Regions from separate parts of the Homo sapiens genome. Here region 2 is linked to region 1. Evidence: fine-mapped expression QTL. Tissue or cell type: spinal cord. Region 1 holds a variant in brackets; the other region holds the start of a gene. All regions are shown on one strand. Distances are from middle to middle.

Region 1 (8,180 bases):
TTAAGTAAATGTCTGCCTAGAATACAATCTACTAAGGTGAGAGGGATGAGCATGCTGCTAAACCCCCTAGGCTTAGAATGGGAACCCCAAAAAAGACAAAACCCAAGGAGTAAAGATGAACTGGAAATAAAACAACCCTCATAAGAACTGACACCCAGTTATGAATTGACTTAACACCTGACTGGCTTAGGGTAATCTAGGACTGCCAGTGCCCTGAGCATGACTGGCTACCAGAAGCTAACATAAATCTGATTTGGAAGAATGTAAGAATCCAGAGTATCAAATCAGCTATACTTTTTTTTCATATACAAAATCCAGCAATCTAAAAAACAACCAGGTATTCAAGGAGACAAGACCATTTAGTCAAAAACAAAGAAAAATAAAGAATAGAGAAATGCGATGCCTACAAGTCATCCAGATAAGACTTGAAACCAAACTAAAACTGATCCAAATGTTAGAATTACTAGACAAGAACATTCAAACCATTATTAAAACATTTTCCATATGTTCAAAAGTTAAGTAGAGGCATAGAAGATATTTAAAAGTCCCAAACCTAACTTCTGGAGATGAAAACTAGAATAAGATAAAATTTTAAAAAACACTTAGTGGGATTAACTGCATATTAGATGTTGCTGAGGAAAAGATTGGTAAATTTAAAGACAAAGCAATAGAAGCTATATAAAAATGAAAGAGAGAAAAAATACATTCATAACCATGAAAGAGTATCAGTGAGCTGTGGGAAACTTCACGTGACCTGACATACATGTAAGCAGGGTCCACAACGTTTGGGAGGAGGGGAATATTTGAAGAAATAATGGCTGAAAATTTTCCAAATTTTGATGAAAACCATAAACCCGTAGAACCCCAATGATAAAGTTTGGATGTCCCCTCTTTCATGCGCGTCCATGTGAAGAGACCACCAAACAGGCTTTGTGTGAGCAATAAAGCTTTTAATCACCTGGGTGCAGGCGGGCTGAGTCCGAAAAGAGAGTTAGCAAAGGGCAATGGGGTGGGGTTTTATAGGATTTGGGTAGGTAAAGGAAAAAGGGGAGTTGTTCTCTGGCGGGCAGGAGTAGGGGTCACAAAGTACTCAGTGGGGGAGCTTTTGAGCCAGGATGAGCCAGGAGAAGGAATTTCACAAGACAATGTCATCAGTTAAGGCGGGAACAGGCCATTTTCACTTCTTTTGTGGTGGAATGTCATCAGTTAAGGCAGGAACCAGCCATCTGGATGTGTACATGCAGGTCACAGGGGATATGATGGCCGAGCTTGGGCTCAGAGGCCTGACACCCTCCAAATCCCACGTTGAGATGTAATCCCCAGTGTTGGCGGTAGGGCCTGCTGGGAGGTGTATGGGTCATGGGGGCAGATCCCTCATGGCATGGTGCCATCCTCACCATGGTGAGTTCTCATGAGATCTGATCATTTAAAAGTGTGTGGTACCTCCCCCCATGCCTTGCTCCTGTTTTTGCCATATGACATGCCTGTTTTCCCTTTGCCTTCCACCATGATTGTAAGGTTCCTGAGGCCCTCACCAGAAGCCAAGCATTTGTTGGTGCCATGCTTGTGTCGACAAAAGAGTCGAACTTTGTAAAATATTTTAAGAGATTTATTCTGAACCAAATATGAGTGACCATGGTCCATGACACAGCCCTCAGGAGGTCCTGAGAACATGTACCCAAGGTGGTTGGGGTACAGCTTGGTTTTATGTACTTTAGGGAGGCATGAGACATCAATCAAATACACTTAAGAAATACATTGGTTTCGTTCAGAAAGGCGGGACAACTCAAAGCGGGGGCTTCCAGGCTATAGGTAAATTTAAACATTTTCTGGTTGACAATTGGTTGTTTATCTAAAGATCTGAGATCGATAGGAATATTCAGGTTAAGATAAAGGATTGTGGATACCATGTTTTATTGTGCAGAGGAAGCTCTCAGATAGACTTCAGAGACTGCAGGCTGTAAAATTTTTCTTATCGGACTTAAAAGGGTACTTGGCTCTTACTCAATTATCTCCTGGATCTGGGAAGGAATGAAGGAAAACAAAGGGAAAAGGGGATTCTCTATAGAATATGGATTTTTCCACAAGAGACTTTGCAAGGCAATTTCAAGGTATGGCAAGGAAATATATTTTGGGGTTGAATATTTTTTCCTTATCTCATAATGTTATGCCAGAGTCAGACTGAAAAGTAAGTCATGATATACGGGGTCAAATAAAACCCATCTAATCAGAATTTATGGTTTGTAGGGCATGACTCCCTAGGCCCCTTAGGTAGGAATTTGGGCAAGATAAAAAATCAGAGTTTAGTCCTCACTTGTGCAGCCTGCAGAACCATGAGCCAATTAAATCTCTTTTCTTTATAAATTACCCAGTCTCAGGTATTTTGTTATACTCAGGACTAAACTCTGACCTTTTTCTTCTCCTGTCCAAATTCCTATCTAAGGGGCTTAAGGATTCACACACTAAAAACCATAAAGTCTCATCAGAGGATTTTATTTAACCCTATATAACGTGGCTTACTTTCCAACCTAACTCTGGCATAACATCACATGACAGATAAAGAAGGGAATTAAAATATGTTAACTCCAATTATGTTTCTTTACCATATCTTGACATAGGCCTGCGAAGCTGTCTCTTGTGGGGAAAATCTACATTCTGCAGAAGATCCCCTTTCCTTTGTAGGCCTTTTTCCTGATCCAGAAGAGTAACCACTAAGACTCTGGCACTTTTTAAGTCTAATAAATATTTACAATCTATTCTCTCTGAAGCCTGCCACCTGGAGGCTTCTTATGTATATTGGGGACCTTGGTCTCCACGATCCGTTATCTTAACCCAGACATTCCTTCTATTGAGTCTAGGTCTTTAGACAATAACTTAACACTTTCAACCAATTGCAATTTAGAAAATTATCGAATCCACCTATGACCTGGAAGCCCCCACTTTGAACTGTCCCACCTTTCTGGACCTAAGCAATGTACATATTACATGTATTGATTGATGTCTTATGTCTCCCTAAATTGTATAAATCCAAGCTGTAGCCTGACCATCACGCACATGTTCTCAGGACCTCAAGACTGTGCCTTGGGCCTCTGGTCGCTCGTAGTTGACTCAGAATAAATCTCTTCAAATATTTTACAGACTTTGATGCTTTCATTGACATAGCAATTCATGAAAGGCCTAATACAGAAAATTGGTACCAAGAAGTGGGGCACTGCTATAAAGATACCTAAAAACGTGGAAGTGGCTTTGGACCTGAGTAACCAGCAGAAGTTGGAAGAGTTTGGAGGGCTCAGAGGAAGACGAGATGCTGAGGGAAACTTTGGAACTTCTTAGATACCAGTTAAATGACTGTGACCAAAACACTGATAGTGGTAAAGACA[G/A]TGAAGTCTAGGCTGAGGAAGTCTCAGATGGAAATGAACTTGCTGGGAACTGGAGCAAAGGTCACTCTTGTTATGCCACAGCAAAGAGCTTGGCTACATTCTGTTCATGCCCTAGGGCTCTGTGGAAGCTTAAACTTGAGTGATGGCCTAGTGTACCTGAAGGAAGAAATTTCTAATCAGCAAAGCATGTAAGATGTCTCCTGGATGCTTCTAACAACATACAATCATAAATGGGAGCAAAGAAATGCCATACAGTTGGAATTTATATTTAAAAGGAAAGCAGAGCATAAAAGTTCAGAAAATTTGCAGCCCAGCCATGTGGCAAAAAGTAACTGTTTTTGGTGAGAGGAATTCAAGCAGGCTGTGGAGCAACCATTTACTTAAGATATTTGTGTAACTAAAAAAAGAACCAAAGGCTGATAACCAAGGCAATGGGAAAGGCCTCCAAGACATTCCAGATATCTCCAAGGCAGTCCCTCCCATTACAGGCCCTGAAGTCTAGGAGGAAAGAATGGTTTTGACGGCCAGGGCCTGCTGCCCCACACAGCCTCAGGACACTGCTCCCGTCTCCAGCTCTGGCCTCAGCTCAGAGGACCCCAGATACAGCTTGGGCTGCTGTTTCAGAGGGTGCAAGCCACAGGCCTTGGTGGTTTCCATGTGGTATTAAGCCTGCGGGTGCACAGAGTACAAGAGTAAAGGAGGCTTAGCAGCCTCCAGCTAGGTTTCAGAGGATTTGTGAGAATGCCTGGGTGCCAAGGCAGAAGCCTGCTGCAGGAGTGGAGCCTTCACAGAGAGCTTCTACTAGGGCAGTGCCAATGCCAAGGGGAAATGTGGAGTTGGAGCCCCCACACAGAGTCCCCACTGAGGCACTGCCTACTAGAGCTGTGAGAAGAGGGGCACCATCATCCAGACCCCAGGATGGCAGATATTCCAGCAGCTTACACCCTGCTCCTAGAAAAGCCGTAGGCACTCAGCAACCAGTGAAAGCAGCCACAAGGGCTGAACCTTGCAAAGCCACAGGGACAGAGCTGCCCCAGGCCTTGGGAGTCCACCCCTTGTACCAGTGTGCTCTGGATGTGGGACACAGAGTCAATAGAGATAATTTTGGAGCTTTATGATTTAATGACTGTCCTGCTGGGTTTCAGACTTGCATGGGGCCTATAGCTCCTCTCTTTTGGCCAATTTCTCCCTTTGGAAATGGGAATGTTTATCCAATGCCTATAATCCCTTTGTATATTGGGAGTAAATAACTTGTTTTTTATTTTACAGGCTCATAGGTGGAAGGAACTTGCCTTGTCTCAGATGAAACTTTGGACTTAGGACTTGGGACTTTTGATTGAGTTGATGCTGGAACAAGTTAAGGCTGAGGATTAAGCTCTGATTTTTTTTTATCTTGCCCAAATTCCTTTCTAAGGGGTCTGGGGAGTCATGCCCTACCAACCATAAATTCTCAGCAGATGAGTTTTATTTGACCCTTTCTATCGTGGCTGACTTTCCAATCTGACTCTGGCATAACAAGGAAGAAAATCAAAATGTTTTACCTCAAAATATATTTCCTTGCCATACCTTGAAATTGTCCTGCAAAGTCTCTTGTGGTAAAAATCCACATTCTATAGAGAAACCCCTTTTCCCTTTGTTTTCCTTCCTTCCTTTCCAGATCCAGGAGATAATCAACTAAGAGCCAGGCACCCTTTTTAAGTCCAAAAAGAAACAATTTACAACCTGCTCTCTCTGAAGTCTGCTATCTGAGAGCTTACTCTGCAGAGTAAAACATGGTCTCCACAATCCTTTAGCTTAACCTGAACATTCCTTTCTATCGATCTCAGATCTTTAGATAAACTCAACCAACTGTCAACCAGAAAATGTTTAAATTTACCTATAGCCTGGAAGCCCCCGCTTTGAGTGGTCTCGCCTTTCTGAATGAAATCAATGTATTTCTTAAGTGTATTTGATTGATGTCTCATGCCTCCCTGAAATATATAAAATGAAGCTGTGCCCTGACCACCTTGGGCACACGTTCTCAGGACCTCCTGAGGGCTATGTCACAGGCCATGGTCACTCATACTTGGCTCAAAATAAATCTCTTAAAATATTTTACAAAGTTTGACTCTTTTCGTCGACAAGACTTTGGGGGACTGTTGGAAAGACATGATTATATTTTGCAATGTGAGAAGGACATAAAATGTAGGGGACCAGGAGTAGAATGATATAGTCTGCATGTCCCCTGCAAATCTCATGTGGAGATGTAATCCCCAGTGTTGGAGGTGGGGTCTGGTGGGAGGTGTTTGGGTCATGCCGGCTGATCCCTCATGGCTTAATGCTGTCCTCACCACAGTGAGTGAGTTCTCATGAAATCTGGTCATTTAAAAGTGTATGGCACCTCCTCCTGACCACTTGTTCCTGTTTTCACCCTGTGAAGTACCTGCTCCCTCTTCACCTTCTGCCATGACTGTAAGGTTCCTGCAGTCCTAATTAAAAGCAAAGCAGACGTTGGTGTCATGCTTGTACAGTCTGCAGAACCATGAGCCAATTAAATCTCTTTTCTTTATAAATTATCCAGTCTCAGGTATTTCTTTATAGCAATACAGAAATGGCCTAATACATGCAAGAATGAGAAATATGAAGAAAAATACACCAAAACATAGCATGATCAAATTGTTCAAAATTGGTAACATAGGAAGTTTTAAAGGCAGCCAGACAAATATAACCCATTGTATACATGAGAACAAAGATAAAGATAATAACAGAATTCTCATTGAAATGATAGAAGAGCAACATATTAAAAACCTGAAGAAAAATCTGTCAAACTAGAATTCTCTACTCAATATAAATGCCTTTCAAAAACAAGGCAAAATAAAAACTTTTTTAAACACACAAAGGCTGAAATAATTTATCACCATATTTGCACTGAAACATATGTTAAATAAAATACTTCAGGCAGAAGGAAAATGCTACCAGACGGAAACATGCATGTACACAAAGGAATGAAGAGCACCAAAAATATAATTACGTGGGTAGATGTGTAAGATATTTTTCCTTCTTAAATTTAAGAGCCTTAAAATTAAAAAAGAAAAGGCCAGGCGCAGTGGCTCACGCCTGTAATCCAAGTACTTTGGGAGGCCGAGGCAGGTGTATCACGAGGTCAGGAGATCGAGACCATCCTGGCTAACACGGTGAAACCCTGTCTCTACTAAAAATACAAAAAATTAGCGGGGCTTGGTGATGGCCGCCTGTAGTCCCAGCTACTCGGGAGGCTGAGGCAGGAGAATGACGTGAACCCGGGAGGCGGAGCTTGCAGTGAGCCAAGATTGCGCCACTGCACTCCAGCCTGGGTGACAGAGCAAGACTCCATCTCAAAAGAAAAAAGAAGATATTTTTCTTATTGTTTAAATATCTTTAAAAGATCCCTGAATGTTTAACAAAAGTAATAATGGATTGTCAGGTTTGTAGCATATGCAAAAGTAAAATGCATGACAACAAAAACATAAAAGTTGTGAGAGAGGAAATGAAAGAGATACAATGCTAACATTAACGAAAATAGAAAGTAGCCAAAGAAGATTTCAGAGCAAGAATATTACCAGGGATCAAAAAACAGTATCACTTTATAATAAATGAAGTCAGTTCAACAGGACATAAAATATACTAAACACATATGTGCTTAATAACAGAGTTTCAAAATACATAAAGTAAAAACTAATGGAAGACAGATAAGTTCACAGAGTCACAGATTTCAATATGCCTCTTTCAATAACTGACTGAACAACTGGACATGAAATCCTCAAGAATATAGAAGACTTGAAGAACACTATTAGCCACCTCAACCTAACTGACATTTATAAAACAAAAGACACAAACACAATTATTCCTAATAGTGTTACTTGCAATAGTCAAAAACTAAAAATAACCTAAATTCCCACCAATAGGAGAATGCATAAAGTATAGTATATCCATACAATGAATATTACTCAATAATAAAGAAGAATGAACTACTGAATGCAGGAACATGGATCTCAATTATCCTGAGTGAAGAAAGCCAGACAAAATGAGTAAGTATCGGACATCACCAAGCTGGTGAAATAGAAGCTAACCCACTCATATCTCCCGACAATAACAAAAATTCTGCACCCATCCATGGTCCAAAGTCTCTCTACAAGAGCCTCAGAATTCAGGTGGAAGTTGTGAAACCCCAGCAGAGCCAAGATCTTAGAAGGTCATTTTGAGAGTTGAGACCCACACCTAGGTGGCTGATTCACTAAGCGTGCTCGTAGCTTCAAGCCCAGAAATGGCCCAGTCCTCCAAGGGGCTTGGTTACCACCTCATTTGGCCTTGAGCCTGAAAACAAAACCAACAGCCAAAGGGTCTGGCAGGAATCACACACTCTACTAACTGATGGAAGGGCTCATCTGCCTGTTGACAATGGTCTAGGCAATGAACCTGAAAGCTGCCCTGTGGCTTCGCTCCAATTCCCTCATCTGAGGTCCCAGGTAAGAGCTGCTTACACAAAGACCCACAGGGAGACTTGCCCGTATCTTGCAACCTGGGAGTCTCAGCCCTCCCTGGCAGGCTCGCCACACTTCCTCCCATGACAGATCCTGAGGGTACCCAATCTCAGCTCTGGGCTCTTCTGCTGCACTCAGGGAACTATCCCATCTGTGCTGAGACCTGCTAGGAGATGCATGCTCCTCTGTGCCAACTAGACCTCTCTAGTCTCCCACCCACAGCAGATCATAAGGGGGCCCAGTCCCAGCTCCAACTCCTCCTGTTGAAATCGGGGAACTATCTCATCTCTGCAGGGACTTC
Region 2 (8,180 bases), 24 kb after region 1:
CCTACAGGCAGAATATGAATGTGCTTGCATTTCCTGATGAGTGCATAGTAAAGAAATAACACCATGACTCACTAGTATGAAGAGTTCACAGAAACAATGGTGTGAAGCCAAGGAGGGAAGGAAGCCTTGTCAGGACACATAAGCCACCTTGACGAGGAAGCACCAGCCTGCACTCAGAATTTCTGGGTCAGTCTGGCCCCAGTGTGCACGAGCTGATGTCCCACCTCTCCAGCTGCCCAACACCTCTGTTCCTCAGTGTTCTCAGCTTCAATGCCTACCTCTGCCTCAGTGTATTCGGCTTCAATGCCTACCTCTGCCTCAGTGTACTCGGCTTTAATGCCTACCTCTCCTGCCTCTCCTGCTCCATGGCAGGGTGGTACAGACAGGGATGAGGGAGGGTCTGGTGCAGGCAGAAACATCGTCAGGGACACACCGACACACACACACACATACACACACGTGTCCACGTCGAGAACATGAGTCCAGGGCAGCTAACTGAAGTGCAACCTATCCTCCCATTGAACAGAGGTCAGATGGCCCCTAAAATCATTTGTGTAAAAAGTTATTTTTCTATATGTTAAAATATTCATTTTTCTATTTCTGTGGTCTGGCAGTTTTCCCCAAGCTCTTTCTGCTTCTTCCCTGGAGCCACTAAGAACATGGCTGGACCACATTTCCAGCCTCTGAAGTCGAGGGCAGCCGTGCACCAATTTCTGGTCTGGAAAGCACACCATGCATGCACAGGCTTGGTCCTGTCACAGCCCGTGCACAGCCCTTCATGCTGGAGGCGGAGGGCTCCAAAGGCTGAGGAGAGGGGCCACGGTGGTGGCACCTGGCAGCCTGTGCTGCTCCCACTAAAGGGTGATCAGGACACCAGGCTGGACTGTTGTGTAAGCAAGAGAGAAACATTTAGTGCATGAAGCTGAGGTCACTTCTGTCAGCCTACCTTGACTGATGTGGGTACCTTGAAGCAGGATGCTTCAGTGACACTGTAGGATGTTGCTGAGTGACTGAGTGATGGGGCACAGAAACAAATTCAGGAGGGGAAAAGCTCAAGACTCACGTTAGGCAGTGACAAACAGGTTCAACTGCAACAACCTGTAATAACGCAGAAAACTTACCACAGGCTTACTCTCCTGCAGCCCTACAGGAAATTATTGCAAAGAATACGCATTAGCAGCCAACACACGGAATTGGACTAGAGAACTGGCTGGTGTGCAAGCGGAATGGACACGAAAAGAAAGTACGAAGAGCAGGGGCTGCAGCACTGGGAAACCTGAGTGCCCTGAGAGGCTGCAGGGAGGGACAAAGGACCATCAGGTCTTGGCCCTTCAGCAAAGATCTGACCTAGGATGGCTACCTTCCCACTCAAGCCTTTGTTCCACATAACCTCAGGGTATCAGCTGCCCAGGAGACCAAAAGAAAATAAAGTCAGGCTTGAACAGTAGACACAGGAAGAACGACAATGGCATCACCAGCACACAGAGCTGACGAGATACACACAGACCAGAAGCTGCTGTGCTCGTGAGGACACGATGAAGCCTAAGAAGTATCAAGCAAAGAACAGAGTAAGGGCACACGGTGGGCTCAGGGCTGACTGCCTGGTCCCCACTGCCATGCTCCAGGAGTGAGCTATGGCAGCCTTCCAAGACAGCATCCTCATAGCCACATCAGATGAGACCGTGGAGGAAAAGGACTAAGGGTAGAATCAAGGGCCTCAGCAAACAAGCCAGGCACAGTGGCTCACATCTGCAATCCCAGCACTTTGTGGGGCCGAGGCAGAAGGATCACTTGAGCCCAGGAGTTCAAGACCAGCCTGGGCAACATAGTGAGACCCTGTCTCTACTTTAAAAAAAAAAAGTAGTCAGGTGTGGCAGTGCATGCTTGTAGCCCCAGCTGCTGGGGAGGCTGAGGTGGGAGGATCGTTTGAGCCACGGAGGTTGAAGCTATAGTGAGCTGTGATTGTGCCACTCTACTTCAACCTGGACAACAGTGACATCCTGTCTCAAAGGAAAGAAAAAGAACAATGGACAAGGGAATTCCTCCCAGATAGCAGAATCAGGGTCTAGTTGGGAAATTCCTCCCACCTCCACCCCAGCATCACTTCAAAACTGCTATAGACCAGTGTCTGCCATGTGTCTCCCTTTTCCAAAAGGGAGATGGTTACAAAAACCATGGTCATATTTAACCACTGCATTTTAGTGGGGAGAGCAACTAGTTTGTCTTCTTAGTCCATAGGGCTCTGGACCACGAGGAACCACAGCCAGGCCTGATGGAGAGAACTGTGCAATCCTGAGAAATGTTCTGTGTTGCACTAGGCACCTTGACAAAGTGTCCCCCTTGGGGTGGGGAGAGTGTGTTCTCCATGTGGGATCAAGAGTGGAGCAGAGATCTGGTCACCAGAAGAGAGACTACGGTAAGTGCTGTTCCTTTTCCACTAAGCCACTTCCCTTTCCTTCTAGACACAGAACTAAACTACACTCCCTAGCTTCCCTTGCAATTAAGTGCAGCCATGTAGTCGTTGAGTGCCTGGCCCATAAATTCCTCCTGCACTGCCTCTCTTCTTTCCCCACCCACTGGCTAAATGCGGAGAATTCAGAGGGCCTAAGGAAAAAAACCACAACATGGAAGAATTTTAGGCTGCAGCTTGCAGAGAGCTGCCCAAAGGAATCGTCTGACTAGAAACCGCTACACAGGACTGTGTGAGCAAGAAACATGCAACTGTTCTATTGGGGTGAATTGCTACAGCACTTAACCTACCTCCACTAATATAAATTGTTTAACATTTTTTTGAATTACAAAAGCAATACAATACAAAACATTTAAACAATGCAGAAATAATAAAGTTTTTTATCCCTACCTCCTCTCCCTGCTGTGCCAACCCTAGGGGATAATCAATGTCACAGGATATCCCCAGGAATATCCATGTACATACATGCACAGAACAAGTCAGGGAAAATAAACTAAATTTATTATTTTAGTGAGATTCTAGTGCACCTAACACTAGGTAAGCACTTCAGGAAAAGGCAGTGACAAGTGATTGCTAAAGATACCATAGTCTTAAAGTTAAGTCAGTAAACACAAGATAGTAATCCCAGATAAACTGGAAGCTGTAGAGTTAATACTCCTTTACTGGTACAGAGCAGTGTGTGTAAATTGTAGAAAATTTAGAAATACATAAAAAGATGAAAACTCTACTACTCGAGGAGTACCACTGATAAAATCCTGTGCATTTCCGTTTTTTTAATGTACATACGAATATTTTTAAAAAGAGAAAATTACTCCCTTCTGATTAGAAAAGATCGAAATTTTTCTCTTTTAGTGATAATCAAGTCAGAAACTTGCTGTTTGGCTCGAGTTAGGAAAACCTAGCCTGGTAGTTACCACGCAGGTTGAAAGGCCAGTGGGGCATAATTAACGAGCCCTCAGGGTCCACGCTCCCGCCCTCGGAGCTCAGAACCGACGGGAGGTGCAGGAGGCCGGGCATTTCTACAGCCCTGGTTCGTTCCTAAACTACTGAATCTTTTAAAGAGATCTGAGTGCTCCTTATACACAGCTGCTTTAATTAAAATAACCACCTGAGCCCTTTTCCTCCGAACTCCACATGCGCTCAGTTCTCAAAGCGCCGATCTCAAGCGGCCGCCCGGATGCTCCGGCCCGACTTGTGCCCCGAATTCCCCTGGAGACCCTCGCACTAGCACGGCGTCAGGAGGAGGCTTCGGGTGACGAGACAGCGGGCAACGGCTCTGGTCCAGAGCGCGCGTGTCCGCCGTTGGAAGCGGTCACGGCGGAACCCTCAAATCGCCCCCTTTCCTAGAGACCTCAGCGGAGCCGCGAGCAACCGCGCAGCCCCCGCGCTCCAGCCCTGCGCCCTAGGCACACGCCCCAGAGCAGCAGCTCGGGTTCGGCGCCGACTCCGCGCCGAGACCAGCCCGCTAGGGGAGGACTCACAGCACCCAGCTCCCAGGAGGGCACGCAGAGGACTACCGAGCCACACTCCGCCCCACGCTCGCCGCTATGGTTACTTGCCAGCCGACCCACGCGAGCCGCTATGGTTACTAGCCCGCCGCCCCTCGCGCCCACGCCCCTTTCGCTATCTCGCGACAGCTGGAGAAGCCTCGCTTCCGGCCGGCTCACTTACGGACCTAGCGTCACTTCCGCCTCCGGCGAGGCTCCGGCCTCGGGTCCGGATGTATAAAGCGCGGCCCCCTGCGGGGAGTGGTGGTGAGTCCGAGGGTGCCACAGCGGCCCTGCCCCTGCCCCTGCCCCTGCCCTGAGTGGGCGCCGCGCTACGGGGGAGGGGTTAACCCACCCCTCCTCCCCGGGGCCTCACGCGGGTGGGAAGGGACAGTCCCAGCGACAGACCAGGCGCCTGGACGCGCCGTGGACCCGCGTGCGGACGGCGGGGACAGGCTCCGGTGCTGAGCGCCTCCGGTGTCCCCAGCAGCACTGACCCACTTGCAGGCCCCGGAGCTGAGCCGCCAGCCATGGCCGCTCCCCGCGGGAGGGCCGCGCCCTGGACGACGGCCCTGCTGCTGCTCCTAGCCTCGCAGGTCCTGTCTCCGGGAAGCTGCGCGGACGAGGAGGAGGTCCCCGAGGAGTGGGTGCTCCTGCACGTCGTCCAGGGCCAGATAGGCGCCGGGAACTACAGCTACCTGCGGCTGAACCACGAGGGCAAGATAGTCCTCAGGATGCGCAGCCTCAAGGGAGATGCGGATCTGTACGTCTCCGCCAGCAGCCTGCACCCCAGCTTCGACGACTACGAGCTGCAATCGGCCACCTGCGGCCCGGACGCCGTGTCCATCCCCGCGCACTTCCGGCGCCCAGTGGGCATCGGCGTCTATGGACACCCCTCCCACCTGGAGAGCGAGTTCGAGATGAAGGTGTACTACGACGGCACGGTCGAGCAGCACCCGTTCGGCGAGGCCGCCTACCCCGCCGACGGCGCAGATGCCGGCCAGAAGCACGCTGGTGCCCCGGAAGACGCCTCGCAAGAGGAGGAATCTGTTCTCTGGACGATATTAATTAGCATTTTGAAACTGGTACTTGAAATTCTCTTTTGAGTCGTTGACCACACTCTGGGATATAAAACCCTCCATCTGTGAAGCTGATTGCAGTTTGCTGTGAACCTTGCTACTTGTACTTGGTTGAAGTTCTAGGTACCTTTAGTCAAGGGATGGAAAAATAAAGCCATACGCAGTTTTGTTACCTCAGTTACCCCAAAAATAGGAAAAGCAGCAAGCACAGTATTTTAAAGATCATAATTCCTATAAAAGGACTGTGCACAAAGTGTTTAGACTCCATTTTCATTAGGCAGGTTGACTAAAAATGATTGCAGTAACAGGTTTATATAAAATAGAGCAACCTTTCATGCTGTGACACAAATCAAAAGGTTGATAACTTTGTAATTTTACTCTGGAGATTCTAACCGAAGTTGGTGTAAGTTTTCAAGAGTTACTAAAATCAAGTTGGAAATGATTTACGTACACTTCCCTGAGCCTGGACTAAAGCCTCATGCCTGTACCCCAAGTAGGTGATGGTACTTTTCTATACAAAAAGGATTTCCTGGCAGGCAGGTATTTACAAAGTTTGTTCCTGTACCAGTCCAATAATGACAACTCTAAATCCAGCTGCACCAAATCTTAGTGGGCCATTTGTCATACCTATGAAAATTCTTCAGTTATTAAATAACTTTGTCAGTGCTACCTATGGTAGGCCGGAAACAATGTAGATTAGGAAGTTTCATGAAAATTAACTTTTGGGGCTATGGAGAAACAGTTAAGTATCTTAAGTTACTAAACATTTCCACTGAATTTTTGGAGTGAGCCAAGGTTACTATAAAATACTTTGGAAGATGAATTCTCTACCTGGAGTTAGTTTCGAGAGTAAGCGTAGCTTTTAACAGAAATAACTGCAGATTTTAAGCTCATAATTTGCAAAAAAAATCTTTTATTGGCATGAAAATAATGTTGTAAATGGCACCAAATATTCCACTTAAATGCATATACAGTATTAGAGTCAAAAACTATTTTATCCCTCTTTGCTGTTTTTCCCCCTTCTGCCCACTTTCCTGGGTGTTGGGGGGGCCCGCTGACAACAGTCACAAATCCAGCGACCTAGGAAAAAAATTGTTAATATAGAATGAAAAATTATCTTTACAGGACTGAATTTTAAGCCCATCTAAACTCTTCTGCCTTAGCTATCACTAATGATATTCCTCTCTGGATTTTGTGGTGAGAAGGGCACTATGAGTTCCTTAATTTAAGGAAAAAATGTAAACTTAATCAATGTAATCAATGCCATGCAAAATTCATTGCAAGTCAAGGGGGATGGGAGAGATGCAATGCCATACGGTGATACGGACCTTTAAGAAAGTACAATCTTTCCTGAAATTCAAACACTATCATACTTCAAAAGGTCAAAACCCATTCCGGAATTTGGCTTTTTTAAGACTTTTTCTCTCCTGCTCACTGGCAGCTGTGTGTCTTAACAGCATTCTTTCAAGTCCTGGTGTACTCTGCTGACAGCACTTTAAAACTTTAACAGCACAATGATAACTTGTACTACATACTTGATCTGAATTACTACAGAAAAATAATTATGTTGCTTGCTTAATGATTCCCAGGAAACTTCGTTGTAGGCATATATTTTATAAGAGTATTATACAGTGTTAACTATGCAAGTAAGTTCTAAAATTACACAATTATCTGTGTAATGTTTTAGTCCAATTACTGTGATTTATTCAACTCTGTTCTAAAGTTATCTGGAATTGTCATGCTGCCTCAATTTACAGAAATCTATAATAGATTTCTATAGAAATGTATAAAGACGTAGCAGTCATTTTGTTGTTTCTAAATAGATAACATATAAAAATAAAGGCTTTGTTACTTTAGTATTTCAGTAGAAAAACACCAGCTCATTCTATAGAACTATACTTCCAAAACTTAGCAGGGGCATTCTGGCCTTTCACTTATCCTTTAGTTGGAATTGTCTAGGGATGAAAAGCTGGTGGACATGACCTGTATAATCACAGCTTTGGTCATATTTGCACATAAGAGTCCACAAGCTCTTCATGTCATGATAGCGTTTATGCAGCCTTTTGGAGTGCTGGGAGAGTCTCATCACCCAAAGATAATGTTTGCTCTTTTTTTAATCTTTACCTGATGGAATAGCACCAAGGCCCACACAAAAAGTATGATAACCTCTGTCACACATATCACAGAACATCATTTCTTCTTCATGGTGGGGTTGTCCACATATAATGCATGTTTTACATTCCATACACTGCCATGGGTAGGTCTTAATCATAGAAACAAGCTCCATTGTCATATCCAGGCAAGAAGGATGGCCTAAATCAAAACCAGTATTAGTGGTATCTCACATAAGAAATTTTAACTTAATATGGCACATAAAATACTAGTTTGCTTTAGGACTTCCAGAGAATGGCTATAATGTCAAATCGCCAAAGAGAAATGAATATACAATGTAGAGGAAAACACATGGGCTGTGTCTATGCCTCACAAGCTACCCTGTGTATTTAATTTGGTGACTCTTTGGTTGAAATCTGCCTGAAACTATAAATTCTAGTTTTTGAACCAATAAATACGGTGGTTAAAATTTTAAAAAGACATTTCAATACTTACCACTATTCTCACATTGGGAGCAGTGTATAAGTGATTCAGCCTTTCCTTTCTTGTTGGACTCCTTACCCTTCAGACAAATTCCACATATAGCATTTGGAATGACCTTTGGCTGGAAGGGTAGAAGAGGGCTATAAATTCATGCCAGAAGAGCTTACTATGGGTTTAAAAGGAATTCTGTTACTTTATTGCCCTATTTTTACTTTTGGTAACTTGCTAATGAGGACCATTTTGAAAGACAAAACTTGACAGGAGTCTGCCTACAATGTAAGACTGCCTACTGAAGAAAGCATTAATTTCATCATAAAATTTGGTAAACAGCATGATCTCGTAAGATTAAATGTAGCATTCTATACTCCCTACATGCACAGTAAGATTTGTTTAATGAATGGAAGGAAAGACTAAATACAATGTCAAATGTCACTATTAATTGGACAAGAAAATCCAAGTAGCAAATGACCATTATGTGTAAGACTTACTCTAAAAAGACCATTTTAAATAGCTCATATATTAATTTTGTTTAAAACCTGCTATTTTCCA

Evidence for each region. PIP is the estimated chance that this variant, and not a neighbour inherited with it, causes the effect.
Region 2: it holds the start of WDR27, and the variant in region 1 is fine-mapped to the expression of WDR27 in spinal cord (GTEx, PIP 0.95).

What each region holds. Positions count from the first base shown.
Region 1 is chr6:169,673,847-169,682,026 of GRCh38, forward strand. The region is part of intron 2 of WDR27 (WD repeat domain 27); the gene reads right to left. Among named protein-coding and RNA genes, the nearest start is that of WDR27, 24 kb to the right of the region's middle. The variant G/A (reference allele first, on the strand shown) is at 3,381.
Region 2 is chr6:169,697,973-169,706,152 of GRCh38, forward strand. WDR27 (WD repeat domain 27) reads right to left here and starts at 4,057. Exons shown (of 26, transcript NM_182552.5): 1 at 3,579-4,057. It overlaps C6orf120 (chromosome 6 open reading frame 120), which reads left to right and starts at 4,154. Exons shown (of 1, transcript NM_001029863.3): 1 at 4,154-8,180. The coding sequence starts at 4,488. The coding sequence ends at 5,063. It overlaps PHF10 (PHD finger protein 10), which reads right to left. Exons shown (of 12, transcript NM_018288.4): 10 at 7,644-7,752; 11 at 7,161-7,349; 12 at 5,930-6,116. The coding sequence ends at 6,031. RefSeq lists enhancers at 3,611-3,690, 4,011-4,100 and a silencer at 4,151-4,520.